Homo sapiens: one gene and its partners. The protein of the gene in region 1 purifies or fractionates together with the protein of each later gene. This does not show direct contact. Each region holds a gene or a part of one and is shown in the gene's direction. Other genes may lie near its edges. The genes, in order: EGFL7, RCN1 and UBR3.

What was found.
Region 2: the proteins of EGFL7 (region 1) and RCN1 purify together in Homo sapiens (co-immunoprecipitation; 2 studies listed by BioGRID and IntAct, with this or other methods). This does not show direct contact.
Region 3: the proteins of EGFL7 (region 1) and UBR3 purify together in Homo sapiens (co-immunoprecipitation; 2 studies listed by BioGRID and IntAct, with this or other methods). This does not show direct contact.

Annotation. Positions count from the first base shown.
Region 1 is NC_000009.12:136,657,792-136,667,604, forward strand, and holds the start of EGFL7 (epidermal growth factor-like protein 7 precursor), read left to right. Parts: upstream 1-5,124; 5' UTR 5,125-5,287; coding exon of another isoform or gene 5,288-5,317; intron 5,318-5,616; 5' UTR 5,617-5,832; intron 5,833-6,897; exon of another isoform or gene 6,898-6,900; coding exon of another isoform or gene 6,901-6,994; intron 6,995-7,976; exon of another isoform or gene 7,977-8,026; intron 8,027-9,813. UniProt on the Homo sapiens protein: Regulates vascular tubulogenesis in vivo. Inhibits platelet-derived growth factor (PDGF)-BB-induced smooth muscle cell migration and promotes endothelial cell adhesion to the extracellular matrix and angiogenesis.
Region 2 is NC_000011.10:32,084,906-32,094,888, forward strand, and holds the start of RCN1 (reticulocalbin-1 precursor), read left to right. Parts: upstream 1-6,168; 5' UTR 6,169-6,291; coding exon 6,292-6,545; intron 6,546-9,983. UniProt on the Homo sapiens protein: May regulate calcium-dependent activities in the endoplasmic reticulum lumen or post-ER compartment.
Region 3 is NC_000002.12:169,828,979-169,838,495, forward strand, and holds part of UBR3 (E3 ubiquitin-protein ligase UBR3), read left to right. Parts: intron 1-9,517. UniProt on the Homo sapiens protein: E3 ubiquitin-protein ligase which is a component of the N-end rule pathway. Does not bind to proteins bearing specific N-terminal residues that are destabilizing according to the N-end rule, leading to their ubiquitination and subsequent degradation.

The DNA of each region.
Region 1 (9,813 bases):
AGCTGCCAGGCAGCACCCAGTGTCCATCTGGGGACCCCTCTCCCAGGCTCACTCCACAGTGGAGGCCTCTTCTCTCTCCTCCCCTCCAGACTCCCTGGGTGCTGCTGGGGACATCCACGGAGCCTGCAGCACACAGCCCCCTGAGCCCACACTGCGCTCTCACCCCAGCCAGGTGTCTCCCCTGTGAAGCAAGTCTCTCCCTAGGGACGGATTCTGCCGTTTAAAAAATAAGATTTTCTTCACCTTCCTACATGAACAAAAATAACAATACAGCAATACCACTGCAAAATCATCAGAATGGCTAAAATGAAAAAGACAGACAACAGCAAGTGCTGACAAGGGTGTGGGGCGGCCAAATGCTCCTGCACTGCTGGCAGGGGACCTGAGAACTGCAGGGCATTCCCTGGCTTCCTGCCCCTCCTGGGACTGGGGACCCCCCAGGGACAGCCTAAGGGAACTGCATTTATCTTCACGTCTGCCAAAAGATAACACGAAGATGTTCAAAGCTAAGCCCCCAGGCTGGTAAGAGCTCCAAGGCACCAGCAGTGTGTGCAGAACTGGGGGGAGTCTGTTCTCCCAGGGATGCTCCCATCACCTGCTGCCAGCAGTGGGGCATGCCGGTCCCCTGGGGTGTGGCCAAGGGGCTGTGTCTCCTGCCCGGGCTGCCGGCCCCTCTCAGGTTCACTTTCCCATCTCTAAGCCCACGTCTCGCTGCAGTTCAAGTTTGCCAGGCCACCAACGGGTGACACGCCCGGCGCAGTGGGGGACTCCGCACTTTCTGCGCACCTGCTCCAAGTCACCTCTTCCAGGTCCGGGTCCCTGCCCTGTGGAGCGCGCACCCGGGCAGGGGCATGGAGCACCGGCAGGACTGGACTTTGTGCTGAGTGTGGTGGCGCCTTAGGAGGAGGTCACACAACCCGATGTGTCCCTCCGCGAAACTCCCTGAGCACTGGGTGTGAAGGGCAGCGGCGCCCAGCAAGGCCGAGGAGGGGCGACTGTTATCCAGGCAGGAAGCGGGGTGGACCGGACCAGGGTAGGGGCAATGTCAGGAGAAGGGGACACTCAGATGCAAAGCCGGTGGGGACCTGCCAAGAAGCCAGCCCACAAGGCCATGGACTCCTCCACGCCATCAGCTGGAGCAGTGGGCAGCCCCAGGAAGGGAGACGGGAGCGGCCAGGGGAAGGGCGAGGGGTCCCCCGGGCGACCCCCGAGGCTCAGGCGCCCGGACTCCAGTCCTGGGCCTCCGTTTTCCACCCTTGAACAAGCGGCTTCCACCTGTGAGCCAGCTGCCTCCTCTGAAAATGGAAGCCCCTCAACTCAGAGGGTGTCGCTCTGGGACGTGGGTCAGGGGCCGGAGCAGGCAGGGAGAGGTGAGAGGAAAGGCTGGGGACCCTCACTTCTCCCTGCCCAAACCCTCGCTCGGGAGCAGACGGCTCCTCTGCCCGCAGGCACCCCTGCCTGGCAGCTCCCTCCAGCCCCCGTCGGGTCCGGGACGTCCTCTGATGGGAAGGTTCCACCACATCCGTGGCTGACAGAGCCAGCCCGTCCGAGGCCGGGGGGCGCTCGGGGTAAACAGGAAGCCCCATCCCTCCCGCACTCTGCTTCACTCCCTCCTCCTGCACCTCCTGCAGCCCGGCTCCCGCGGCCGCGCCTGGTGCCCCTCTGTCTCGCGCCACCTGAGATGCCCAGGCTGGCCTCTGCCAGGGGCTTAGTCTGCCCTCTCCTGGGGCTTCAGAGGCCAAAAGCACCCTGGTGAGGGGTCCGGGAGGCCCGGGAGGGCCCGGGGGGCTCTGCCAGGCCCCTCCACGCCTCTCTGCCCAGCCAGCACGCTCTGGGAAGGTAAGGCAGCCCTTCCCCTTATAACTAACCTCAGAACATTCCCAGGTGGCTGGAAGGCCACTGGACAACATGGCCCTGCTGACAAGAGAGACAATGGGGAAACTGAGGCCTGTGTGGGGCACAAAGCTGGGACCAGAGCTCCAGCTTCCTGCCCCTGCCGGGCCTCCACCTCTGACACCACCCCAGGCAGGGTGAAGCCCTGGGCTCCAGACCTTCCAGTGCCCAGATGAGGACAGGCGCAGGCCTTGGGGTGGCCACACTCTCCCACCAGGTCTCCCCCTCTGTGCTGGGCCCCTGAGGTGAGGGGAGGAGGCCAGGCGTGGGGCCCGGCCTGGCTTCTGTGGGGCTGGAGCCTGGGCAGGAGGCACTGCTGACTCCCAAAATGATTCCCTGCTGAAGGTCTGTGCCATGATCCCAAACACACACCACCAGAGCGGCCAGGGCAGGGAAGGGGGCACCTCCAAGGACCGGAGGGTGAGGGAGGGGCCCGCCTGCCCCTTGCTGAGCCCCTGGGCCTTGGGCACAGAGTGTGCTCCACCCATACCAGAACCCGGGGGCAGCCCCAACCCCCTGGACCCCCAGTACCCTCTGGCGTCCAAGAACCCATGTCTGTCCCCTGCCAACCCCCCGCCCCTCCTGTCCCCGCTGGGCCCCCGACATTAGGGCAAGGCCGCAGCCCACCTCCTGTACCTGCCTCTGAGGCTCCAGGAGCCCAAGAGAGTGGAGTGCCCCTCCTGTGGTGGCTCCAGGCTATGGGATAGGGCAAAGCTGGCACTCTGGGCCTGAGCCCAGGCCTCCTTCCCTTGGGGAGGGTCTAGTCTTGGCCTGGGGAGGGGCTGGGGGCAGGGCAGAGCTTATCAGGAGGGGGTTGCAGTGAAGAACAAGTTGGCAGCAGGCGGTGCCCAGCCCCCCAGGCTGTCACCCAGGAGTCCAGTGCCAGGAGGACAGCCTGGGGAGGACGCAGACTCTGCCCTCGCCCCTTGCCTGTAAGCACAGCAGTCAGTTCACCGGGAAGGCCCCCAGCGGGCCAAGCCTTAGCAACTCGTGCACTCGGCTACTTAGCTATTCCTGCCCCGAGCTGTCCCCTGGCCGGATAGGTCTGATGACAGGGGCTGCTCCAGGTTGGGACATAGGACAAGCTGGGGTGGGGGACATGGGGCTCCCCAAGAAGAGGAAGGAAGGGTGAGGCAGCCTCCTGTGCCGAGCATCCCAGCCCTGTCCGGCCTCCAGGCTCACCTGGGCCGGTCACTTCTCCCTCTGGGCCTCAGTTTCCCCCTCTGTACACAGAAAGGGCTGGATCTAGCCCACCCCATGCTTGTGGGTCCTTCCACCAGGAGGCCAGGGCAGATCCAGGGGCATGCAGGTGGGGGAGGAGGGGGCAGGCCGCAGGGATGCAGGCAGAGGGCAAGAGGGCACCTCCTGGGATGGGGGCACAAGCCTACTGGGCCCCTATACGGTGGAGTAGCTAAGTAGCCGAGTGCACGAGTTGCTAAGGCTTGGCCCGCTGGGGGCCTTCCCGGTGAACTGACTGCTGTGCTTACAGCCAGGGGCGAGGGCAGAGTCTGGGTCCTCCCCAGGCTGTCCTCCTGGCACTGGACTCCTGGGTGACAGCCTGGGGGACTGGGCCCGGCCTGCTGCCAACTTGTTCTTCACTGCAACCCCCTCCTGACAGCTGGAGGGACAGGCTGGCCAGGGCAGGATGAGCCCCTGGGTGGGAGAGCCAGGGGGCCGAGGGAGGCACAGGGCGGCTGAGGGTGCAGCCAGTAGGGTAAGGGCCAGATCCCAGGGTGGCCTAGTGTGGAGGAGGTGGGGAAATGGGGTTCTGCCTATCTGCTCCAACCTCAGGGCAGGGGCCACCTCTGGAAAGAGGCCCCTCCCGCTCAGACCAGCGGTGCCTGGGTGCCAGGAGCGCCCCCTTAAACCAGCTCAGTGACCATGAAGCAGGTGCAGAAACAGGCCCGGAGAAGAGTGAGGTCCTGCCTGGCTGAGGCCCTGAGCCCTGACCACAGCCTGGCGCCCAGAGCAGACCCTTCCCCTGGCCGTGGGTAGAGGGGAGCTGGTTCCTGCTTGAGGGGGAGGCGCATCGCGTGTGGGTGAGGTTTCCACCTGCCCTCCAAAGTCCCGTGGGGAATTTCCCCAGCTGCCCCAGCCTCCCTTGGCTCAAGTTGCCCAGCTGAGTGGGGCTGGAGAGGTGGGGGCACACTGACCGCCCAGGGCCAGGGAAATGGGGGTGTCCCAGGCATCAGGCCGACAGGGGCTGACCCCAAAGCAGGGCTCACACCCCACGGACAGCGGGGTTGGGAGAGGCCCTGCTCTCCTGGGGTTCCAGGCGTGCCCTCCAAAGCCACCCAGCTCCCTTCGGCACCGTGTCCCCTCCCACCCAGCCCACCTTTGCCACAGTGGCTCGCTCGGCCTGAGGCTCCCACTGCCGTGTGAACAGGGAAGATGAGGGTCAGACCTGGAGGCTGGGACGCCGGGAATCTGACAGAGCACCCCCTGTGATCACCCACAGTGTCCCGCATCCCTCCCCACACCCCCGGCCGCAGCCTGCTGCCAGCCCAGAGCACCCCTGTGAAGTGGGGCTGAGGGCATTGGGCCTGCTTGCCCATCTCCAGGGCAGGGGCTCACAGCCTCACTGGCAGCTCTTTTAGGGGAGAGAGCTTGGACTCCATGCTTGTCCCCTCCCGTCACCCCCTCACCATGGGCCTCAGGGACCCACGGAACAGGCTGTTCTCGGACCGCTCAGCCTGTCTTGCCACCCCAGTCCCTTCCTGCCGGGCCTCGCCACTCGCCATCCCTCACTGGTCAAGGCTCCTGTGTGGCTGGTCCCTGCCTTGGCCTGGGGCCCCTCCAAGCTCCCGTGCTGTGTCACACACATCTGGGGGTGTCCTGGGGGAGGGCCCAGCATCCTTGGCCCAAAGATGCAGCAGCTCCCTTCTGTCCAGCCACACGTGAGCATGGCCTGTGAACCCACGGTCCTGGGAGGGCCCTGGGCTTGCGTCCTCCACCCCACACTCTCCCCAGGGTCTCCAGCAGGGTCCAGCCCTGGTTTCTGGCTGTTTTGGGGCTAGACTCTGATGGCCCAGGGGACGGCTTCCCCACCCCTGGGCAGTTTGTCCAGGCCCCCTCACACGGTGGCCCCCACCCCCCTCAGCCTCCTGTTTGTCCGACGACACGTCCCCGTTATCAGCGGAGAACACACACAGGAAGTCCGGCTGGGAAGGGCCCATCCCAATCCCGATTACCCAGGACGGAGCATAAAAAGCCGCCCTTCCTCGCCCGGGGGGAGCCTCCCTGCACCAAGCTGGCCCTGCACGGCTGCAAGGGAGGCTCCTGTGGACAGGCCAGGCAGGTGGGCCTCAGGAGGTGCCTCCAGGCGGCCAGTGGGCCTGAGGCCCCAGCAAGGGCTAGGGTCCATCTCCAGTCCCAGGACACAGCAGCGGCCACCATGGCCACGCCTGGGCTCCAGCAGCATCAGGTATGGCAGGGGTGGCCTCGGAGGGGCAGGGAGCGGACAGGGCGGGCCCCCCATTCCCCTCACTCCCGCTGACCGTGGCGCCTGCTGGCTGCTCCGCAATCTGCTCCCCAGCGAGGTCACAGGGGAGGGGTCCCAGTCTCCTCCCCTTCTGCACAGAGGAGGCCACTGAGGCCCCTTGGCCAAACGCCTGCTAGTGGGTGGCCCAGCGTAGATCCCAATCCAGTCTGCTGACTCCAACACTTCACCCCCAGTCGCCCTTCCCCTGAACCCCACCCTCTGGCCTTTCTCTCCCTCCGCAGAGCAGCCCCTGTGGTTGGCAGCAAAGTTCAGCTTGGCTGGGCCCGCTGTGAGGGGCTTCGCGCTACGCCCTGCGGTGTCCCGAGGGCTGAGGTCTCCTCATCTTCTCCCTAGCAGTGGATGAGCAACCCAACGGGGGCCCGGGGAGGGGAACTGGCCCCGAGGGAGAGGAACCCCAAAGCCACATCTGTAGCCAGGATGAGCAGTGTGAATCCAGGGTGCGGGACGTGGGGCTCGGGCTTAGGGATGACTTGCTGGGTGCGGTGGGCAAATGGGTGACTCTGTGGGCCCCCCTTGGACCCTGGAGACGCCCTTGTTCTCCCTCTCCCCAGCCTCATGCAGAGTGGCTGAAGCCCCATCCCAAAGCCCCCAAAACCACAGTGGGTCCTAGAAGGCCCCACTTTTTGTCTCATACGTCCACACCAAGAAGCCTGTCTGAGAACCCCCACTTTCCAAATGGTGCCTAGCCAGGATGGGGGCAGCGAGGGCTGAGTCGGGGCAGCCCTGGAGCTGCCCTTTCTGCTCCATCGCCTCTTCCAGACTCAGGCAGGAGAGGTGGGGAGGCAGGTCAAAGGGTTAAGTGACCGCAGATCCAGAGATGAGGCCAGGGGCAGGGGACAGGGAGGGTGGCGGTGGCTCTCCCACCCAGAGGCCCCCTAGGCCCCACTCTGAACACTTCACTGCTGGGGGCTAGGTAAGAGCTGCCCTGCGTGGGCTCAGGGCGCCAGGAGGCCTAGGACTCCCCAGTCAGATGAGGAACGCCCCCTGACAGCAGCTGCTCTGGTCGTCCCTTGGACCACGTGCCAGGGGCTTCCAGGGCCCCTGGTCCAGAGCAGTGGCCACTGGATTGCAGGGTGGGGCGGCCTCATTTTGGGGACTCCTCTCCAGGGACCTGGGCCCCTCCCTTCCTCCAGCTCCCATGCACCAAGGTAGGACCAAGCTGGTGGCCCTCTCGGACCCATCTGCAGGCCCCTTGCCCAGCACCCTGGGTTACATGGAGAGACCTCCAGCTCCACTCACAGCAGCCTCCCATCCCCATGCCAGGGAGTCCAGGGCTGGAGGCAATAACCCCATTTTACTGAGGCCAGGGGCTGCGGATCCGAGAGGACAATCAGCTCAGGACAGGATGGGGTCGGGGTAGGTGCAGGACAGGGGCCTGTAGGCCTAGTGCAGGCGGAGGTCCCACAGCAGCACCGAAAGCTGGTCCCGGGCCCCTTCCCAGCCCCCAGACATCAGGGTGACCAGGACTGTGCATAGGCACTAACCCACAACTCCTCTCCAACCAGCAGCCCCCAGGACCGGGGAGGCACAGGTGGCCCCCACCACCCGGAGGAGCAGCTCCTGCCCCTGTCCGGGGGATGACTGATTCTCCTCCGCCAGGTGAGTCCCAGCAAACCCCTTGCTCCGAGGGAACACTTCTCACACCGGCGCCCACGCGGGTTATGACACAGGGCGCTGGCTCCGGCTGGGGTCTGAGGGGCTGCTGAATTGGGCTGGCCCGAGCCCCACGTGCCGCGCCCGCAGTAACAGCTGTAACAATTGTTGTGTGGCCACGACCTCACCGTCACTAGATCCCAGGGCTGTTTAGCCCCATCTTATAAATTTGGAAATGGAGGCCTGGAGAAGAGAGGTGACCAGCCCAGGGACCTCTGGTGTGAGGAGACTCTCTGGGGGCCTGTGGATTCGCTGGGAGGAGTGTTCTGCGATGGCCCTGACTGTGCTGAACTCAGCAGTGACCCAGTGACCCCGGTGAGGGTGCCTGATGCCTGAGAGAGGGCCAGGTGGGGGCCGGCGCAGGGGCCCCCAACCTAACACGCTAAGGCTAGGAGGCAGGCCTGGGCTCTGCCATGTGGTCTCAGAGGAGATCTGGGTCTCTGGGCCTGCGGTGGGGACGGTCATGATGCCCACTGCCTGCGAGGCTGCAGGACCCAGCTCAGTGCTAACCTGCGCCGGGCGCCTACCGCGCGGCCCCCCAGCGGCTGAGATGGGCGTCCCGGGGTGGTTTTCAGCCTGGGGGGCTTGAAAGCTAGCAAAGGGCCCGCAGCCCCGTCAGTGTGGGCGCCCTGGGCGGCCTCTCCTGGCTCCTGGCGGCCGGGCTTGGTCGTGCGTCCCCAGCGACCGCGCAGCGAGCGCCCTGCCGCGGGGACTCGGGCCCCAGGATTCCCGGAGGGGGTGCTGGCGGGCCGCGGCTCAGAGGCGCGTTTGCGTCAGCCCCGGGTTCCAGCAGAGTCACTGCCCGCCCGGGGGCAGCTCGTCCGCCGCGGGGCCTCAGTTTCCCCGTCTGCGCAATGGGGGCGGGGCGGGGCCGCCAGGTGGGGCGGGGCCGGGGGCGGGGCGGGGCGGGGCTCGGGGCCCCCACGGCGCGGGCTCGGGCGGCAGTGGCGGCGGCGCGTGCGCGCCCCGGATCCGGCGGTGAGTGCGGAGCGAGCGGGGCGCGCCGGGGTCGGGGTCCGGTCGCCGCCCGGGCTGGGTCGAGGGCGGGACCCGCGGAGCCCCCGGGGGCGGGGAACCTGGCCGCGCGCGGAGCTGGGGGCGGCTCCGGGACGAGGCAGCGCGACCGCTGGGGCCGGGGGCGGAGCGGGCCGGGGCGCCCGCGGCTGGGTCGGGCCGGGCCGGGAGAATGGGCCCAGCGGCCCCGGGAACCGGCTCCCCCTGCCGGCGGCGGGCGGGCGGGCGGCGCGGCGGGGAGGGCCGGGGTCGCCGCGGCCCCTCGTCCGACCCGGCGCGACTCAGCGCCTCGGGGCCCAGCCTGTGCCGCCTGCTCCGCCCCCCGCGAACCCCGGAGCCAGCAGCGCGGCTGGGAGGGGGCGGCGGGCAGGTCCGTCTCGCTCCGCCTCTGCGCCCTCCCTCGTGGGCCCCGCGGTCCCCAGCCCTGCTCCCGCCGCGAGGGGTCCGCCAGTGCCTGCGGCGCAGCCAGGCCCCTCCCTCTGCGGACCCGGCCTCTCGCGGGTGGGGGCTGCGGGGCTGCTGCCGGGCAGGTGGGGAGGGAGCCCGTGGGCGCTGGGGGCACGGGGACCGGACTGCTGGTCCACCTGGCGCCGCCGCCCCCTCCCCGCCCGGCACCCCTGGGTCGAGGCCGTGGCCCCCCCCGGGGAAATGGGGCTTGCAGCACCGGCTCGGAGAGCACCACGGGCTTCCTCTGGCCTCGGGAAAACATGACTTTCAAAAATTGAGTCTCCACTTAGCACCGCTTCCTGTCCAGGCGACTCTCAGGAATTGTGGGGGGGAGCTGTGCCAATATGTGTGGGGGGCAATGAGGTCTGGGAGATTCGCCTACCCCCAGGCCCGCCCTGGCATCCCCCTGCCCACATCAAGCCGCCGGGCCGCTGCCCTACCTCTTCCTTCCCGGGTCCCACTCCCCAATGTCCCCCGACTTCGAGTCTTGCCTTGAGGTCGCACCAGACCCAGCCCCTAACAGTGTCCTTCATCCAGGGCCCATCCCCAGAGTTAATCTCCAGCCAGCTCTGCCCCCTCGACAAACTCCTGCCCAAAAACTGCTGTGATGCCCCCCCTGCCCCCAAGCTAAGTCCCCACCCCTCAGCTGCCCAGGGCAGCCTCTGCCTAGTTGGCAGCCTCTGCCCTGCCCTCCTCTCTCCAGCGCACAGAGGACTGGAGGCCCAGGAAGGACCCCCAGCCACCCTCCCCGCTGGGACCGGGTGATGCCTTGGCAGTGCCCGTGGGAAGCAGGTGTGGGATCGTGCTCCACACCCAGTGGGGCTGGCCAGCAGCGACTGAGGACAGTGTGACTATTTATAGGACTGGCTGTCAGAGCTGAGGAGGGGCCTCAGAGACCCTATTCTAGTGTGTGAGGAAACTGAATCCCAGAGAAGGGACAGCCTTACCCCAGCCTCTGCCCCGACCCGAAGCCTGGCCTTTCCCTGCGGAGGGCCCTGCAGTGCCTCGGAAGGAACCCACCCAGCCTTTGGGAAGCACCCGTGAGAGGCCCTGGGTGGGACCCTGCAGCATGGCAGGGGCTCGCCAGGTCTCCAGACCCCTGGCTGCGCATAGGACAGAATCCCCATCCCCGGCATTGCCACAGACCATTAATTCTGGGCTCTCATGCTCTCAGGAAGCCTCACCCGGGCCCCTGGCTCCTGCTGCACAGCCAGGAGGGGGTTGGATTCCGGTTCCGGTGACACTGTCGGGGGCTGCTCCTCACCCCCAGGTGTGCACCTGGCACAGCCACTGTCCCAGGATCC
Region 2 (9,983 bases), on another chromosome or scaffold:
GTCTTTTACTTAGGCCAGTTTCTATTGCTATGCCTCCAAGTTCATTAATATTTTCTTCTCATTGTAAAGACTGGGGGACCTCTTTCTTAAGTGATCTTTGTCTTAAGATTTGGTGCAATATATCAGTAGACCTAACAGAATGAATATCTAACAAAAGAAAGTTGAAAACTAAATGACTGTTACCTTTCTCTTTGAAATACTGTAGGAATGAAAGTTAGATATACTTTGTGACTTCCACGAGACACTGACCATCACACAGGCTGTGATTTTTATCAGTGCAAGACGCAAGGTGAGCAGGCTCACTGAGAAAACGCACACCAGGGACTTCACAGTTCCTGCTCTGCATGATGATATGGACTAGAAGGAAAAAGATGTTAGCATGAGGGATTTCTGATCAGGGTCAAGCTGTGTTCTGATCACTAATGACTTGTCGGCTTGTGGGATGGAGGAGCAATGAGTGTCTTTGGTTACAAACTGTGATCTACCTACCAATTGTGAAAACTATATTCACAGGAGTCGACAGCAGCAGTTGATGGCAAGATGGTACTCAGAAATGGCATTGATGTAATTTAGGACGTGGAATCATAAGTGAGACAGCACACAATTAGAACAAAGAATTGGCAGAGGGGGTCGACTTGGGAAGAAAGGTGTGGATATAAACTGTTACTGAAGAAGACAAATAGATTGTTCATGACACTGAGACTTTCTACGATACCATAGCGGAAGAGATGCCCATGCATGTGGCTGACCTTATTTCATTCCGAAGTGAGATAGTTTTGGATGCAGTGCTCGTTGTTGCTGAATAAGTGACCACAATGTGCATTGTGCTTCTTTCTTTGGAAATATTTGAATCTTGTCTCAATGCTTAAAATCGATCAGAGATACAGATTTTGATAGCAAAGTGACATTAGTCATGAGCCCTTGTGAAGATAGTCATTATTTTTTTATCTTCTTTAGAGTTAGACTGAGGGGGTGGGTATAAAAGATGGGGTCTATAACATCTTTCTTTCTTAGAAATGTATTTCCTAGTCCCATGGAAATGGTTGCATTAGATGTTCTCTATCATTTAATAATATACTTGTGGACTAAAAGATAAAAGTGCTGTATGAAATAAGCCAATTATGTTAAACTAGCACATCTGCCTTTACTGCGTTTATCATTAGTCTGAATAGAAAGACCTTTAAAATTAATTTTTTAGAAAGCATTTGAATGCATTCTTTGCTATTGTATTTATTCAATAAAGTATTTAATTAGTAAAAAGATATTGTCTTCTGCAATATCTAACCTTCTGTTAATCTTATATGGTGTATTTTTCATCCCAGATTTCAAAGTTTTGCTATCTAGGCTTTCAATTTGTGTCTTTTTTGTATTTTCTCTGGCTCTTCTGAACTTTTAAAACATTTAACACAATTACAATAATTGTTTTAATGTTCCTCTCTGTTAAGTCTAATATCTGTGTCAGTTCTGGGTCAGTTTTTACAGACCGATTATTCTCCTCGCTGTGTTTTCCTGCCTTGCTGTGTCTTTGATTGGATAATGCAAATTGTGAATTTCACCTTGTTGGGTGCCAAATTTTTTTTTTTTTTAATTCTTGTATGTTTTCTTGAGCTTTTCAGGTCTTGCCTTTGTGCTTTGAGAGGCACTTTCTGGAGCAGTGCTCAGTCTAGGGTTAATTATTCCCCACCACTGAGGCAAGACCTTACTAAGTACCCAGTGCCCCATGAATGATGAGTTTTTCCAGTCTGACTGATGGGAACAGGTACCATGCCTGGCACCCACTGTTCCTTCTAATCCTTTCAGATGGCTCAGTCCTCAGCCTACACGCATGCACTGTTCACCACTTTGCTGAATGGCCAAGGGGATCCTCTGTGGAGCTTTGGGATTCTCTCTCTGTGCAGCCATCTTCTCTCCAGTACTCTCTCTTTAGAACCACGGCTGACTTGGTCTCTCTGGACACTCACTTCTGTCTTTTCAACTTCAGGAGTCTGCCAGGATCCATCTTAGTTCTCCCTCTCTGCACAGTGACCTGGCAACTCTGCCAAGGTAATTCTGGGGTAATCCTGGGACTCACCTAGTTTGTTTCCAATGTTGTTCATTGCCTGGTGTCCAGTGTCTTGAAAACTGTTGCTTCATATATTTTGTTTGTTTGTTTCAAATGGGAGGATAAATCCAGTCCCTCCTTCACTCCATCTTGACCAGAAGCAGAAGTTGGTAGCTATTGTTATTTTATCATTCATTCAAGATATTTTAGGGGCACCTACTATGAGCCAGGCACTATACTAGGTTGAGTATACAGTGGTGAGCCAAAAGAATATGGTCCTGGTCTCACAGCAAATCTGTCTTATGGCGATCAACTTCTGCCAGAAGGCAGTAAATATGGTAGGCCCTGGATTTACGAACATGGACATGAATCGGCTGTGATCATTTCTCTCAAGGAATTCAGAATTAGAAGGGAAGAAAAATTAATACAAAGCTGACTGTGAGAAGTATGTGAGATACAAAGGCTCTGGGCATATTGATGAAGAAATAATTAATTCTGATTTAAGGTATAAGGGAAAACTTCATGGAGAAGGTGACATTTGAGTTGGGACCTGAAAAGTTCATGTAATTTTGAATGGTGGAGAAGCAGGAGGGAGGTAGAGATGCTGAAAGTGCTTTTAAACATGTGGCAGACACAGCTATTTGGCTTGTTCTTCCTCGCCCACAGAACCCTAATCATGTGCTTCAGAGGATGCTACATACAGTACTTTCCAGCTCCTACCAGTGAGTCTTGATTGGTTGAAATCAATCATGGAATTTCTATTCCCCATGCCTGTCACTGGATCCAGCATAGGCACATGACACAATTCTGGCCAATGAGATATGAGGGACAGTCTGCTGGGAAAGTTTATTTTTCAAAGAAAGGGAGAGAACATTCCTTTCCCCTACTGTTTCTGAGGGAGAAACAAAAACAAAAACAAAAAAACCTGATTCCTTGATGATGTCCTGAAACCACTGAAATTAACCAATCTGAAACCAATATAACTCATGACTTCTTGTTGCATGAGATGGTAAAGTTTTCTTCTTGTTTCAGTAACTTCTGGTTGGATTTTTGTTGTAGTTGATGGTGTTACTTTTGGCCAGATGCGGGAGACCAGCATACCCTAAGCTGATCAGTTTACCCATTTGAAACTCGCTTTTCCTTTTCACTGAATCAACCCTCTGCTAAATGTTACTTATCTTGTTCTTGTTCCTCTGCTTCATCAAGAATGGAGGTTAACCTAAGACCTAAGGCATGACAATGCACTTAGTCACTCTTCCCAAACATGCACATGGGGGGGAGATGCAAAACAGCTTTGAAAATGAAAGAAAGCAATTACACAGTGCAATACCTTGACTATTCTGTCCCATCATCCTTCCTGAACCTTTGATTGGGAGGACTTGAACTCTTATGGTAGGGTGGAGGGATGAAAATAAATATAAAGGAAAAGAGTGTAGGCAAGCCCAGGGGAAATTATGTAAATTCTTCCGGATTCACAGCAGTGCTAGAATTCTCTGGTAATTCCCACAGGAGCCAAGACTACCTCTGAAACAATCTAACTGTTGGAAACCACCAGTGTCTGGCAGGAAGCCAACTATAACAAGGGCAAAAGATATGCCTTTTTGGAGAGTCTGGACCAATCCCAGGGACCCAGGCCAGCCTGTGGCCAAAGTTGTGAATATGCAAAAACTGTCACCAGTCTCCACTCGCTTTCCCGTTCCCTTCCTAGTCCCCTTCTTTTTCTAGCCCCAATCTTTTTCTCCCTGTTCCTCCTCCCACTCCTCCTTCTCCTCCCTCACTCACTCAACAATTCATATCCTGCTTGCCTGATGAGCACAGAAGGTACTAAACCGCCTACCTTAGGACACTTGCATTTCAGCAGGGAGCTCTTACACCCCCAAGGTAATGCTCCTCTATTGCTAGAAATTCAGATCTCTAGGCTGGCTGGGGGAAGCATGTCTGGTCTCAGGCACAGTACTTCTTGTGCCATGCAAAGTCAGCTGGTGGGAAGGGGGGGATCCAAGGAAAAGAAGGGGACTAGGAAGAGAAGCGGGGATCCAAGGACTGGCTTCCCAGCTCTCACTGCCAGCCAGTGGGGTCACAAAGACATTGCCTCAAATGTGGAGCTGTCCTCTGCTAGCTCGTACAGGATCTTATCCTTCTCTCACATAACTACATCCTTCCATCTAGCTTATCTTACTCACCTTCAGTCTCAATTTAAATGTGTCTTCCTCTGGGAGGCCTTCCCTGATTGATTCCCATGTCTGGATCGGTTCAGTACCCCCAGACCACTACATGCCTTTCTCTGTGAGCACTTGTCATGCTGACTTGTGATCCATGGATCTCAGTTAGCCAGAATCCAGCACAGCCTGACACTTAGCAGGTGCTCAGTTTATGGAACGAACGAACGAATGAACATCTGTTCATATACACTATAGCTCTGCAGACACCATGATTATCTTGTTCTCCATTGTACCCTCAGCACCCAGTCCAGTGCTTAGGCTGTAGTAGTAAGACAGTAATGATTTATTAATTGATTGAAAGAGGGCGTCCCAAGAAAGGGACTTGCGTCTATGTTGCGACGACATCTTTATTGCAAGGGCAAGAAGCACATCCCAGACCTTTTTGAAAACATCAGGGATGGAGGTGGGAGGCAAGGCAAGATGGAGGAAATTTCTAGGAGTACAGATATTTAGCTGTCATGGTGGGTTTCCCTCTTCAACTATCGTTTCAGTTTTCTAGGGTTTTTTTTTTTTTTTATGGAGTTTCTCTCGTTTCCCAGGTTGAAGTGCAATGGCATGATCTCGGCTCACTGCAACCTTCGCCTCCCAGGTTCAAGCGATTCTCCTACCCCAGCCTCCGACTAGCTGAGATTACAGGCGCCCGCCACCTCGCCCAGCTAATTTTTGTATTTTTAGTAGAGACGGTGTTTCACCATGTTGGCCAAGCTGGTCTCGAACTCCTGACCTCAAGTGATCTACCTGGCTCCGCCTCCCAAAGTGCCGGGATTACAGGCATGAGCCACCGTGCCCGGCCTTCTAGGGATTCTTAACCTGGGGCTCATAGGTGGGGCTTCAAAAGATCCATGAATCCTCCGACTCTTTAATCAAGCACCCGTGTCAGTAGCTGTATGTGCATTTTTCTGGAAGAGGATCATGGCTTTCAATGAGTGTCAAAAGGCTGAGACTGCTCGAGACCTCACCGTCCAATACGGTAGCCATTAGTCCCGTGTGGCTCTTTAAGTTTAGATTTAAATTAAAATTTCAGTGCCTCACTTACACTAAGCTACACATCAAGTGCTCAACAGCCACTACCTACAGGCCAGACCAGATAGAGGGCATTTCCATCATTGCAGAAAGTTTGATGGGACAGATATCTGTATTGGTAGCATTACCAACTGAATACAGGTAAGATTGGATCCAACTAGTGCTTTTGTAAAATGAGTTACCAACATTTAGAAATAAAACATAAAAATCTAAAATCCTGATTGATTTCATTTGGGAAACAGGACTATCTATCAGCGTGGGGCCTGCGTTCCCCTGGCAGCTGGAACGCACAGTACCGCTCCCTTTAGAGGGACTCTTGGTCATATAGAAGTTCCCCGCTTGACCCTCCTTGACGACTGACAGTACGACCCTCGTTTCTAGGGGACTTCGCCCGTCTTGGTCTCCTTCCAGGCTCGCGTTTGTAACCAGACTCCAAATTTTACTAAATGGGGTTGAATTGGGTTTGAGAGCACATCTTAGAGCAGGGTCTAGGGCTGAGATTCGGGGTCTCAGTTGGAAGTTGAGGAAGGGCAACGTCTCCTTCCTTACAGTTTTCCCGGAACTGTAGGAAGTCAGAGGGAATTTTATCCTGCACATCTGTTGCTTGACAAAGAACTTCCCAATCCTCCTCCGAGCCCTCCAGTCCCTAGCCCAGTTCGCCCGGGCCCGCCCCTAGCAACAAGATCGCGGGGAGGGGCCGAGGCGAAACACGAGCCCCGCGCCCACCACCCCAGCTGGCGACGTGGCTCCGCGGCCCCGGCTTCCCCCGGCAGCTCAGCGACCAATGGGCGCGCGAGCGGGGCCGCCCGCAGCTTCCCAGCCCGAGGCCCAGGCGCGCCCCTCTGCTCCGGCTCGGGGCGGGCACTGGCGGAGGGACTGGCCAGTCCCCTCCTCCGCGCCGGCCCCAACCCTGTCGCTGCCGCCGCGCTCCGAGTCCCCATTCCCGAGCTGCCGCTGTTGTCGCTCGCTCAGCGTCTCCCTCTCGGCCGCCCTCTCCTCGGGACGATGGCGCGCGGTGGCCGCGGCCGCCGCCTGGGGTTAGCCCTGGGGCTGCTGCTGGCGCTGGTGCTGGCGCCGCGGGTTCTGCGGGCCAAGCCCACGGTGCGCAAAGAGCGCGTGGTGCGGCCCGACTCGGAGCTGGGCGAGCGGCCCCCTGAGGACAACCAGAGCTTCCAGTACGACCACGAGGCCTTCCTGGGCAAGGAGGACTCCAAGACCTTCGACCAGCTCACCCCGGACGAGAGCAAGGAGAGGCTAGGGTGAGGCCGCGGCCAGGGCCCCGTGGGGGGCGGCGCAGGTGTCCGAGGGCCGCCTGGGCGAGAGCCACGCGGGATACCACCGCCAAAGCGAAAGCGAAATCGCGCGCGCGGCCTCGAGGATGGGGCCCTGCCCAACTCGGCGCTGGGGCTCAGGCTAACTTGCTGGAGGGCCCCGGGACCCCAGCTTGGAGATCGCCGCCGCCGCGCCCCGGCCGGGGTGGTTTCTCGCGGGGAGGCGAGAACGTGGCAGCGGCCGCGGGAGCCAGGACGGCGAGGGCCCGCCCCCTCCCCCAGGTTGCATCAGAAGGGAGGGGAGAGTGCACAAAAGAAGAGTTTGTCCACAGTGGCCTGTTAGTGCCATGAGTTCCTCCCCACTCTCTCGCAGTTTCTCTCTGATCCCCCACTCCCGGGGAGAAGGGCTTGAGACACTCGCTAAGAAAATCTCAGGGATGAACATAAATGGATAAAAGATGAAGGGGCAGGCGAGCGACAGGCTTGCTTCCTGGTCTCGGCCGCAGTGGTCTTGCCTTTTGCCTAATCGCCCTGTAAATCTATCGTAAGGAGTCTGGGCGCGGTGACTCACGCCTGTAATCCCAGCACTTTGGGAGGCCGAGGCGGGGGGAGGGGTGGGGAGATCACCTGAGGTCAGGAGTTCGAGACCAGCCTGACCAAACGGCGAAATCCCGTCTCTACTAAAAATACAAAAATTAGCCGGGCGTCGTGGCACACGCCTGTAATCCCAGCTACTTGGGAGGCTGAGGCAGGGGAATCGCTTGAACCCGGGAGGCGGAGGTAGCAGTGGGCCGAGATTGCGCCACTGCACTCCAGCCGGGGCTAGAGTGAGACTCCATCTCAAAAATAATAAAAATAAAAATAAAATAAAATCTAGTGTAGGGATACAAAAATCCGGTTGAAAAGGGACACGCAGTTTCCGATTGGAAACACGAGGGAGCAGGAATGGAAACGGTTCGCCTGAAACGTTTCTGTTGGCAGCAGATGTCTGCAGAAGCACTCAGTTCTTTGGCAACTGATTTGTTTGGGGGGCAAAAAGCTGGAGGGTTCTCTTGGTGGTGGAGGATTTTGACTTGGGCTGTTAAAGGCAGTTGAGTCAGGAACCAAACCCGGGAAACAAAACTTCGGCGCATTTTAGTACACCCTCCCCGGGTCCCCTGAGGAAACACTTGGGCACTGTGCGGAGGTATCTGGTGGTCCTTGCACAGAGGACCCAGCAGGCAGCCTGGTCCCAGATGGAGGCAGGGCTGGGGAAGAAACCAGCAGTCCTGCCTATTGGGCACCAGGTCTCAGATCTCCCTGAACCTGATTCCTGGGGGTGGAGGATCTTCATGTTCTGCCACATGAAAGAGAACACAGCCATCCCTGTGCTCCTGGGGGCCTCCAAAGGCCAAAGTGTTTCATTGGAATATGAGGATAAATTATACCTATTGTGTAGGTGCACCATTTGCCTGCTCTGATAAAAAGACCTTTGAACTTCAAAGTCACCTCCAAACAATTACCTTTTATCTTGCAGAGTACTTTCTCTTCTCAGTTAGGACTTAACAATAGGGGCCATTGATGAGTTCAGTCTATTGTATTGCTTTGAGGCACTTGGAGACTGATTTATCCTGGAGCCCTGAGTGGCAGCCACATTGTCACTGGAGAGGAGGCAGGGAGAGGTTTTGGGATTTGGAAAACTTTATAAGGTGTGGTCATGCAGCTTCCAGTTAATGCCTTCATTGTGACAGTTCAGCCTAGTAGTGAGAAAAAGTGACGGTGAAGTTGGTCTGGATTTGATCCTTGTATCAACACCTTGACTTCATTCATTTATTCATGCAACAAACATTTGAATGGCTACTGTGTACCAGGCCCCAGTTTAGATAACTGGCAGGTACAAAGATGAAACCTTATGCTCTGGGCGTCGAAGTGCTTGTAAGCAAATGTGGAGGAGAGAAGCACAGACAAACTAGCCATTATGCACAATTGCTGCAATGATGGCCTATAAAACCTACTGTGAGCACATTCAGGAGAAGGAGCCGCCAAGGCTGCAGGTTAGAGAGAGGGGATTGGGGCTGTCACCTGATCAGAGTTTGTAGGATGACTTGGAGGTTGCCAGGTGTACAGCAGGGGAAGGCCTTCCTGAAGAGAAAACAGCCCATTTCTAAAGGGTTTGAAAAGCGTTCTGGGGCATGAGGGGTGGTGAGTCTGCAAAGGGGCAGGGAAGGGAAGTGAGAGGTGAGAATGGAGGGGAAACCAAGGGCAGAGCAGGAAGGACCTTGGTGAGATGGACATGAGATGTTATCCTGTACATTGTCAAAATGTCATAATCCCCAAAACTCATTGGGAAAGTCAGGCTGGCAGGAGGGCAGTACACAGAGAACATAATCAAGGCACAGACTAGACCAGTGGCAGGGAGAGGAGGTGAATGCCAAAGGGGCTTGGTCTCTCCGGATTCCAGGAGGGGATGAATCTAGACACCAGTGGGAGGCAGAACTGGCAGCTCTTGCTCTTGACTCAATGAGGGGGAGAAGAGAGAGGTAGGAATCAAGGGGACATCCGGGTCTCTGGCCTTAGCCACCAGATGGGTGATGGATGCACCATTCACTTGTAGGTTAAATGTGGGGTAGAGGCGGGGTAGGAGGTGCTGGAAATTATGGGTCCTGTTTGGGATGGGGCTGAGTGTGAGAAGCTGCCCCTCTGTCCAAAGCTTCTGTTTCAGTGGTCCCCTCCAAGATTGGGCTGAGGAGGAATGAGTGTGGCTGGATCTAGGCAACTTTGTCACCATCACCTGTCAGTCCTGAAAATGTGACAGCTCTAAGGCCCCTAAAGACACCTGGACCAGAGGTTGCAAAGTGGGAACCCGTAGGCTGCATGCATTCATAAATATGCGACACAGTGTAAATTACTTGCCCACGTTTAAAGTTTGAATGGTTTCACATACAGACCCCCATATCTGGCTTCTCTTGACACCTTTATTCCCATGTGTCAGTCATCGTCTGCAGCAGAGTCGGCCAGCCCTATTTGGCGGCTAGCAGGGTACCTCCAAGTGGCCATAGGTCCCATCAAAAGGTTTTGCTCATTCTGTTACCTGTTGGTGTTGAGAACAAATGATGATGGAGTTGGTCTGGGTTTGCTCCTTGCATCAACACCTTAACTTCATTCATTTATTCATGCAACAAACACCCGAATGGCTACTGTGTAGCAGCTACCATCAGCCACTGATCTAGATTATTGTCTTTAGTGAGGAAAAGCATGCATTCTCTCCTTTATTCCTCACAACATTCCTTGTGAAGTAGGTGTTCAGTTTACAGATGGGGAAACTCAGAGAGTCAAGACACTTGCCCAAGATCACGCAGATAATGGGGACCAGAGGCAGGACGGGGATCCAGGTGTTCTGATGAAAGTGCTAGGCTTCATCTCCATCCTAGCTGCCTTTCCCAGGAT
Region 3 (9,517 bases), on another chromosome or scaffold:
TCAGGGACAGTCTGAGAAAAAAGGAAAAAGTGAAAGGGGCGATTTTGGATGGGCAGTAGTTGAAAGAATATTAGCAACTACAGGTTGCTATCAGTTATTAAACTTCTTCAATTTTCAGGTCTTAGGATTAATGACAGAGTACAATCTTTTTATAAATGGTCACCTTTTTCTTCGGAGTACTTGTAAGGTTACTGTTACTCCAAAATGTTTGTACCTACTATGTGCAAGCAAGGCTTCTTGGATATTAAAAATGAATGAAACATTGACCAACCCCTTACTCTACTTGCACTGGAGTAGAAAGTAATAAATTCCTTAAACAATAACTTGGTAGCTAGAGGAGGGAGATGAGGTTTCTGTGCAGAGGGAGTAAGAAAAAGTCTTCAGAAAGGAGGTATTTTGAATTTGCTAATAATAATAACAACATAATTGCAGCTAACATTTGAGTTTTTTTTTTTTTTTTTTGAGACGGAGTTTCTCTCTTGTTGCCCAAGCTGGAGTGCAATGGCGCGACCTCGGCTCACTGAAACCTCCGCCCCCTGGGTTCAAGCGATTCTCCTGCCTCAGCCTCCCAAGTAGCTGGGATTACAGTCATGCACTACCACGCCTGGCTAATTTTGTATTTTTTTAGTAGAGACAGGGTTTCTCCATGTCGGTCAGGCTAGTCCCGAACTCCCGACCTCAGGTGATCCGCCCGCGTCGGCCTCCCAAGTGCTGGGATTACAGGCGTGAGCCACCGCGCCCGGCCAACATTTGAGTTCTTGAACTGTATGTCTGATACTTTAAAAGTACTTTTTAAAATTTAATATTTGAATAGGTAAAATATATAGCTAAAAAGTACACACACACACACACACACACACACACACACACACACACGGAAGTTTTTCTCACATCTAGTCTTCTATCTGTCCAGTTCCTTCCCGCTTAGTTTCTCTTGGTGCAGAACAAGCAAAGATGTTTCCTAGTTTTTCAGTCTCTTTTTATGCAAAGGGTTACATACTTTCCACTGTTCTACATCTTGCATTTTTTGGTTATCTTAGATGTATTTTTCCTATTAAAAAATCAGTGTCGTCATTCTATTTTTTTAAAAAAACTGCTGCATAGTGTTCCATGTTTTCAATTTGCCATTCTTTAATTTCTTTTTTTATTTTTATTTTTATTTTTTGTGCGTGTGAATTTGCCATTCTTGATTTAATGTCTCTTCATGGGCATTTGGCTTTCCAGTATAAAATTAAAAACGTGGTGTATCTGTCTTTTCCCCACCTGGTCAAGAGAGTCAGTGGGATAAATTCTCAAAAGTGTGATTTCCAAATTGCCCTCCCTAAGGCTTAGTACTAATTACTCTGTGAGACTGCCTGTTTTCCAACAGCCTCATCAACAGAGTAGTAGTAAAATTTTGGACTTTTATCTATTTGGTTAAAAGTGGCCAAATTCTAGCTGTTTTATGTGATTTAACTTATTTATTCTTTGACTCTGAGATTATTACTTTTATTATTCTCATTGTACAGAAGAGGAAAGTAGGGCAGAGTTAAAAACCTTGCTCAAGTTCACACAGGCAGTAAGCTAGGCATGCTGGCTCCAGGGCTCTGGAGCCAGACTAATCAACCATTTCTCTTTACTGCCCCTACTAAATAGCATTCTTACTGGTTTTTCTTTTCAATTCTATGTTTTATCTTTTTTTTTTTCCTTAATATGCTATTCTTATTTGGGCCTTTGTTTCTTTCTTTTTAAACTTTTTTTGTTTGTTTTGTTTTAAAGAGGCACATCAAAACAGGAGTTGGAGCAATCCTTTACTGATATTTAGACATTTTTACTTCTTGGACTGGGTTAGCATTTAGGAAAGCCTCCAGAGAACCTGAAGGTAGGAAATAACACTGATTCTTTCCTGACTTTTGGAATACAGTGGTAATTATCAGGTTGTCGTGGATGAGATGGAAGTCTGATCGCTTGTGATGCTTCAGTGTACTACCAGAAATATGTCAGTGAGTTTCTTTGAAGGTATTCATACAGTTTTAGGGCATCCAGGCTATAGACAGTCAACATCCTAACCTCATGGTATTTGCTTTTACTGGTGTCTCATAGGTAAGTATTATTTTCCCAGTCTGGCAACCCTCTATGAGTTGGTACATTATATATATATATATATATATTTTTTTTTTTTTTTTTTTTTTTTTTTTGAGAGAGAGAGTTTTGCTCTTGTTGCCCAGGCTGGATTGCAGTGGCACGATCTTGGCTCACCGCAACCTCTGCCTCCCGGGTTCAAGTGATTCTCTACCTCAGCCTTCCAAATAGCTGGGATTACAGGGATGCGCCACCACACCCGGCTAATTTTTTTTTTTTCTTGTGTTTTTAGTAAAGACAGGGTTTCTCCATGTTGGTCAGGCTGGTCTTGAACTCCTGACCTTAGGTGATCCACCCGCCTCGGCCTCCCAAAGTGCTGGGATTACAGGCATGAGCCACCACACCCGGCCGGATACATAATATTTAAAGATTTATTATTATCTTTGTCTGAAACCAGAGCTATTGCCTGTATGTGTCAGCAGTTGCCATGTCCAGTTTCATAAAGGGCAAGATTGAACAATAAACAGTATTGTGGCCATGCAATTACTCTGAATTTTTTCTAACTGCTTGGATTGGATAGAGTAATTTTCCTGGGCTATACAGCTAATTTACTGCCTCAAGAGAAATAGGTGATGTTGACCAGCTCTGCAACCTAAAAGACTGCCTCTGGAACCTTTTTAGAACTGGAAATCATCAACAGCTTGTAACAGTGTTCTCATGGGCAAAGCTGGACTACACTGGCATGAACAGAATGTTTGAACTTTTCTAAGTTTTTGGTATTTTAAAAACCCCTTTAGATTGCCAAAGATTGAATGTGTGTTGATTTTGGGGTTTTTATTCTAACTGCCATAAGTTTGTAAATTTCATGGTTTAGTCACTTTTAGAGGAAGGATTCCTTTTTTTCAGCTGTATTTGTGCTCTTAGTAAATGAGAATAAATCTTTCTGTGCCATAATCCTTTTCACCAGTGTCTGACTGTTGCCTGTAGGATGTTCTTGATTGGAGATGGAGAAGAATCTTGAATCTATCACAGCTGTATTTATATTTAATTTTCAAATTAGCAATTATAGAACTGTGGGGAGGATTTAGTTATTTTTGACTGAGTAGTATTGATATAATCAATGTGGCAGTATTAGCAGATATACAAACCAAAGGAAGAAAACAATTGAGGATTCATTTGTGGGATGAAATCACAAAGGCTATGGAAATTGTGTGCTAATAACTGTATGTGGCTGGGCGCGGTGGCTCACGCCTGCAATCCCAGCACTTTGGGAGGCCGAGGTGGGCAGATCACGAAGTCAGGAGATTGAGATCATCCTGGCTAACATGGTGAAACCCCGTCTCTACTAAAAATACAAAAAATTAGTCAGGCGTGGTGGTGGGTGCCTGTAGTCCCAGCTACTCGGGAGGCTGAGGCAGGAGAATGGCGTGAACCCGGGAGGCGGAGCTTGGAGTGAGCTTGGAGTGAGCTTGGAGTGAGATCCCGCCACTGCACTCCAGCCTGGGCGACAGAGCGTGACTCTGTCTCAGGAAAAAAAACAAAAAAACTGTATGTATAACTACAGTTTTGCCACTAGTGAGTAAGTGCAGTCATTGTCAGAAATGCTTTATGGGGGCCGGGCGTGGTGGCTCACACCTGTAATCCCAGCACTTTGGGAGGCCGAGGCAGGCGGATCACCTTAAGTCGGGAGTTCAAGACCAGCCTGACCACATGGAGAAACCCCATCTCTACTAAAAATACAAAATTATCTGGGCATGATGGTGCATGCCTGTAATCCCAGCTACTCTGGAGGCTGAGACAGGAGAATTGCTTGAACCCAGGAGGCGGAGGTTACAGTGAGCCAAGATCATGCCATTGCACTCCAGCCTGGGCAACAAGAGTGAAACTCCATCTGGAAAAAAAAAAAATGCTTTATGGGTGGATGAACTCAAAACAAAATAACCTGTAATGGAAAGTCTAAAATACACTCGTTCCTCAGTATATGGTATACATAGGAGACTGGTTCCAGAATACCCACCTCCCACCCACTCTTCAGGGTATACTGAAATGCTGCTTATATGAAAAGTCTGCCCTTCATGTATGTGAGTGTCAGATCCCATGAATTCTGCATTTTTGATCCATGTTTAGTTAAAAAAATCCTTGTATAAGTGGACCCTTGTAGTTCAAACTAGTGTTGTTCAAGGGTCAACTGTAATGTCTGACTAGCTGGTTTTGGGCTCTGATGGGATACTAACTGGAAACTGGGATTTTAAACATTTAGTTCTCAAATTTTGGTGCAGAGAATGAGGAGTTTCATGTTCTGTCCTATATTACAGATATTTTTGTCTCCTTGCTTGTTCTTCCTCACATATTCTAAGCTCCTTAAAAGATAAGGACCACATTTTGCTATTAGCCAGAGGCCAGCACCTACTAAGTCTCTTGTACTTAGGAGGTGTCAGTAATTTTGAATTAAATTGGATAAAAAAGTGGCTGCTATACCCAAAAAGTTACTGTAAGATTACATTGCTTTAGTTACTCATGAGGTGGCATTGATTATTAAATCCATAGCAGCTTTTTTCAGAGTGCTTTCATTCTTTTTTTAGTTTCAGAAGTAATACACATTGATTATAACATAAAAATAAGTGGATAAAGTAAAAAGTAAAGGTGCCTTTCTCCATCCTACCCCTCAGTAAGAAATTTCCTTTTCTTTTAAGGTTACTTATGTGTTTAAAAGAGATTAGTTATAATTTATCCAGCATTTCTAGATTTTTTTTTTTTTTAGTGACAGGTTCTCGCAGTGTCTCCCAGGCTGGAGTGCAGTGGTGTGATATCACAGCTCACTGCAGCCTCTACCTCCCAGGCTCAAGTGATCTCCCACCTCACCCTCCCAAGTAGCTGTGACTGTAGGCGCACACCACCACACACAGCTAAATTTCTTTTTGTATTTTTTGTAGAGATGGTATTTCACCATGTTGGCCAGGCTGGTCTTGAACTCCTGGCTTCAAGCAGTCTACCTGCCTCAGCCTCCCAAAGAGCTGGGATTATAGGCGTGAGCCACAGTGTGGTGCCTGGCCTGTGTTGTGGGAGGTTTTTAGGTTTTCTGATCTGTGGTAGCCAGAAATTGAACCACGTGAATGTCTGGTTGAATAGTGTTACTCTCTTCAGTAGCTTGCTTTTTTCCCCTTAACATATTTATGGATACTATCTCAAAAGTAGAACTGCTTCATTTTTAAAGTTAAATAGTATTTCATTGTATTTCCATGTTTTTGTAATGTACTATGATTTTTGCGGTCAGTCCCTACTGATAGACATTTAAATTGTTTCCAGACTTGGGCTGTTGTAAACATTGTTGCAGTCAGTATTCTTGTATACACTTGTTCATATGTGTGTGAGCTTATGTATGAGGATACATTCCTAGAAGTTATATCTTGGTTGAAGGAAATTTGCAAATTCAACTTTGATAGAACCCTCCAAAGAAATTAATTTACATTCCTGCCAACAATGTATGAAACAATTTGTTTCCCCATATTCTGGCAGTATATATGGTGGTATCAGTGTTTCTGATCTTTGCTGCTCTCATAAGTGAAAAGTTATATCCCATTTCATCTGTTATCTCCCTGTCCCACTGCTTTTTCGTCCCAGCCAGGACTATTTTGAAGCAAATATCAGATACCTTATAATTTAATTTAAAAATATTTGAGTATGCATCTCAGTAAAGAGATGTGAACTCTAAAACATAACTCAAATGTCCATCAGCAGATGAATGGGTAAGCAATATGTGGAATATACGTACAATGGAATATTTAACCTTAAAAAGTAATAAAATTCTGACACATTAGAATGTTACAATGTAGATAAACCTTGAAGACCTTATGCCAAATGAAATAGGCCCAGCACAAAAGAACAAATGCTTGTATGCTTCGGTCTATATGAAGTGCCCGGAATAGTCAAATTCATACAGACAGAAAGTAGAATAGTGATTATCAGAGGCCAAGGGAAGGGGAGATTGGGGAGTTATTTTTTTAACAGGTACAGAGTTTCAGTTTGGGAAGATGAAAAAGTCCTTGAGATCGATGGTTGTGATGGTTGCAAAACAATGTGAATGTACTTAATGCCACTAAAACTGTACACTTAAGATGTTTTAAATGGTAAATTTTATGTTATTTATATTTTACCACAATTAAAAAATAATGTCAGGTATGGTGGCTCGCACCTGTAGTCCCAGCTACTCCCGAGGCTGAGTTGGGAGTATTGCTTGAGGCTGGGAGTAAGAGGCTGCAGTGGATTATGATCACACCTGGGAATAGTCACTGCACTCCAGCCTCAGCAACATGAAGTGACCTCATCTCTTGAAAAGAAAGCAAAAAACAAACAACTCCCCCAAAACCACAATACCAATACTACACCTAAAATATTCATATTTTGTTTGTTTGTTTGTTTTGATATGGAGTCTCACTCTGTTGCCAGGCTGGAGTGCAGTTGCATGATCTCGGCTCACTGCAACCTCTGCCTCCTGAGTTCAAGCGGTTCTCCTGTCTCAGCCTCCCTAGTAGCAGGGACTACAGGTGCATGCCACCATGCCCAGCTAATTTTTGTATTTTTAGTAGAGGTGGGGTTTCACCATATTGGTCAGGCTGGTCTGGAACTCCTGACCTCAGGCAATCCACCTGCCTTGGCCTCCCAAAGTGCTGGGATTACAGGCGTGAGCCACCGTGCGTGGCCTAATTTTTAAATCATTATAAAACTCAGTTAAAACTATTTTCAATTATGAAACAATTTGAATTTACAGAAAAGTACAAAAGTAGTATAACAGATACCTTTGTACTTACCATTGAGATGAATAGATATTAACCTTTTGCCATGTTTGCTCTAGAGTTGCTTTTAGTCAAAAAACCAAAGAAAGGTCAACCCACCTTTCCCTTTCTCTTTTCCTCTCCAGACGTTAACCATTTTCCTGAAATTCCTGTGTGCACTGTCTCTCTCTCTCTCTCTCTCTCTCTCTCTCTCTCTCTCTCTCTCTCTCTCTATATATATATATATATATATATATTTTTTTTTTTTTTTTTTTTTTTTTTGAGATGGAAACTCGCTCTGTCCCCATCAGACTCAGGCTGGAGTGCAATGGTGCGATCTCGGCTCACTGCAACCTCCGCCTCCTGAGTTCAAGCAATTCTCCTGCCTCAGCCGCCTGAGTAGCTGGGATTACAGGCGGCCGCCACCATGCCTAGCTAATTTTCATATTTTTAGTAGAGATGGGGGTTTCACCATATTGGCCAGGCTGGTCTCGAACTCCTGACCTCCGGTGATCTTCCCGCCTCAGCCTCCCAGAGTGCTGGAATTACAGGCATGGGCTACCACGCCTGGCCCCACCAGGAATTTGAGGTCTTGTTTTTCTGCTTATTGAAACTTGGTGTTAATGAGAACACATGGACACCACGAAGGGAACAACACACACAGGGGCCTGTTGGGTCGGGGGCAGGGAGAGGGAGAGCATCAGAAAAAATAGCTAATGCATGCTGGGCTTCATACCTAGTTGATGAGTTGATAGGTGCAGCAAACCACCACAGCAACCATTTACCTATGTAACCTGTACATCCTGCACATGTAATTCAGAACTTAAAAAAAAAAAAACCAAAAGACACTTGGTGTTATATATATAAATTTATAATATTTTACCAATCTGTTGGATACAAACATCTTTTTAAAATTTATATTTTCTTGACTAGTAAAGTTGAACATCTTTTCATATGTTTTGGGGCCATTTGGGCTTCTTTCTTGGTGAACTGCTGGTTCATATTATTTGCCTGTTTTGTTTTTCTGTTTTACTGAGTTTTAAGAATGCTGTACATACTCTAGATGCTGATCCTTTGTTGTATAAATACTTAATTTCATCTTCTAGTTTGTGTCTTGTCTTTTTACCTTGAAATATATAATTTTGTTGTAAACGATTTTAAATTAAAAATGTAGTTTTTCTTCTACAGTTTGTATTATTTGTATCTTGTTAAAGAAATCTTCTTCACCTTGGTTTAAAAAAATGCTTATATGTTTTCTACTGAAAGATTTAAGGTTTTTCATTGTACACTTAGGTCTTTTGTCCATCTGGAATTTATTTTTACATGTAGTATGAGATTGAGGTCTGTATTAGTCTGTTTTCGCACTGCTATAAAGAACTGCCTGAACGGGCCCGGAGGCTCACGCCTGTAATCCCAGCACTTTGGGAAGCCGAGGCAGGTGAATCACCTGAGGTCGGGAGTTCGAGACCAGCCTGACCAACATGGAGAAACCCCATCTCTACTAAAAATACAAAATTAGCCGGGTGTGGTGGCGTGTGGCTGTAATCCCAGCTTCTCGGGAGGCTGAGGCAAGAGAATTGCTTGAACCTGGGAGGCAGAGGTTGCGGTGAGCCGCGATCACGCCATTGCACTCCAGCCTGGGCAACAAGAGGAAATCTCCGTCTCAAAAAGAAAAGGAAAAAGAACGGCTGGAGACTGGGTGATTTATAAAGGAAAGAGGTTTAATTGACTCACAGTTCAGCATGGCTGGGGAGGCCTTAGGAAACGTAGAATCATGGTAGAAGGCACCTAGTCACAGAGCAGCAGGGGGGGAGAAGCGAGCAGGGGAAATGCCAGATGCTTATAAAACCATTACATCTCGTGAGAACTCACTCACTATCATGAGAACAACATAGGGCAAACCATCCCCATCATCCAGTTACCTCCACCTCATCCCACCCTTGACGTGTGGGGATTATGGGGATTACAATTCAGGATGAGATTTTGGGTGGGGACACAACCAAACCATATCATTAGATCTAATTTTATCTTTTTCAATATGAGGATTCACTTATTGAACATTTTTTTCCTCCATTGATCTATAATGTCACCTCTATCACAGACCAAACCTATGTGTGTCCTAAGTTCTCTATTGTATTGATATGTCTCTTATAACAATACCATACTACTTTATTAGAACATTAAAATGTATTTTGATATGGCAGGATTTCCTTATTATTAGTCTTCAAAAGGGTTTTTGGCTGTTCTTGGTTCCTGTTTTCATTTGAATTTCAGGAGCTTGTCAAGTTCTCTGGAAAACTTCTGTTAAGATGTTGACTGGCATCACATTAAATATGAGGAGGTTGCAGAAAGATACATGTTCAAGTATGTTCATTGTAACACTGAAATAGGGAAAAATGGAAACAGTGAGATTAGTGAACTGTAGTTTAATCATTCAATGGAATACTTTATGGCAGAATACATAAATTGCCATCCATCTTAGTCTGTTTGTGCTGCTGTTACATCAGACGGAGTAATTTAGAACAGAAATTTATTTATTCCAGTCTGGAAGCTGGGAAGTCCAAGATTAAGGCATTTGTGTGTGTGTGTGTGTGTGTGTGTGTGTGTGTGTGTGTGTGTGTGTGTGTGTGTGTGTGTCTGGTGAGGCCTTCTTGCATACTCACATGGCAGAAGCGGGGAAGAGG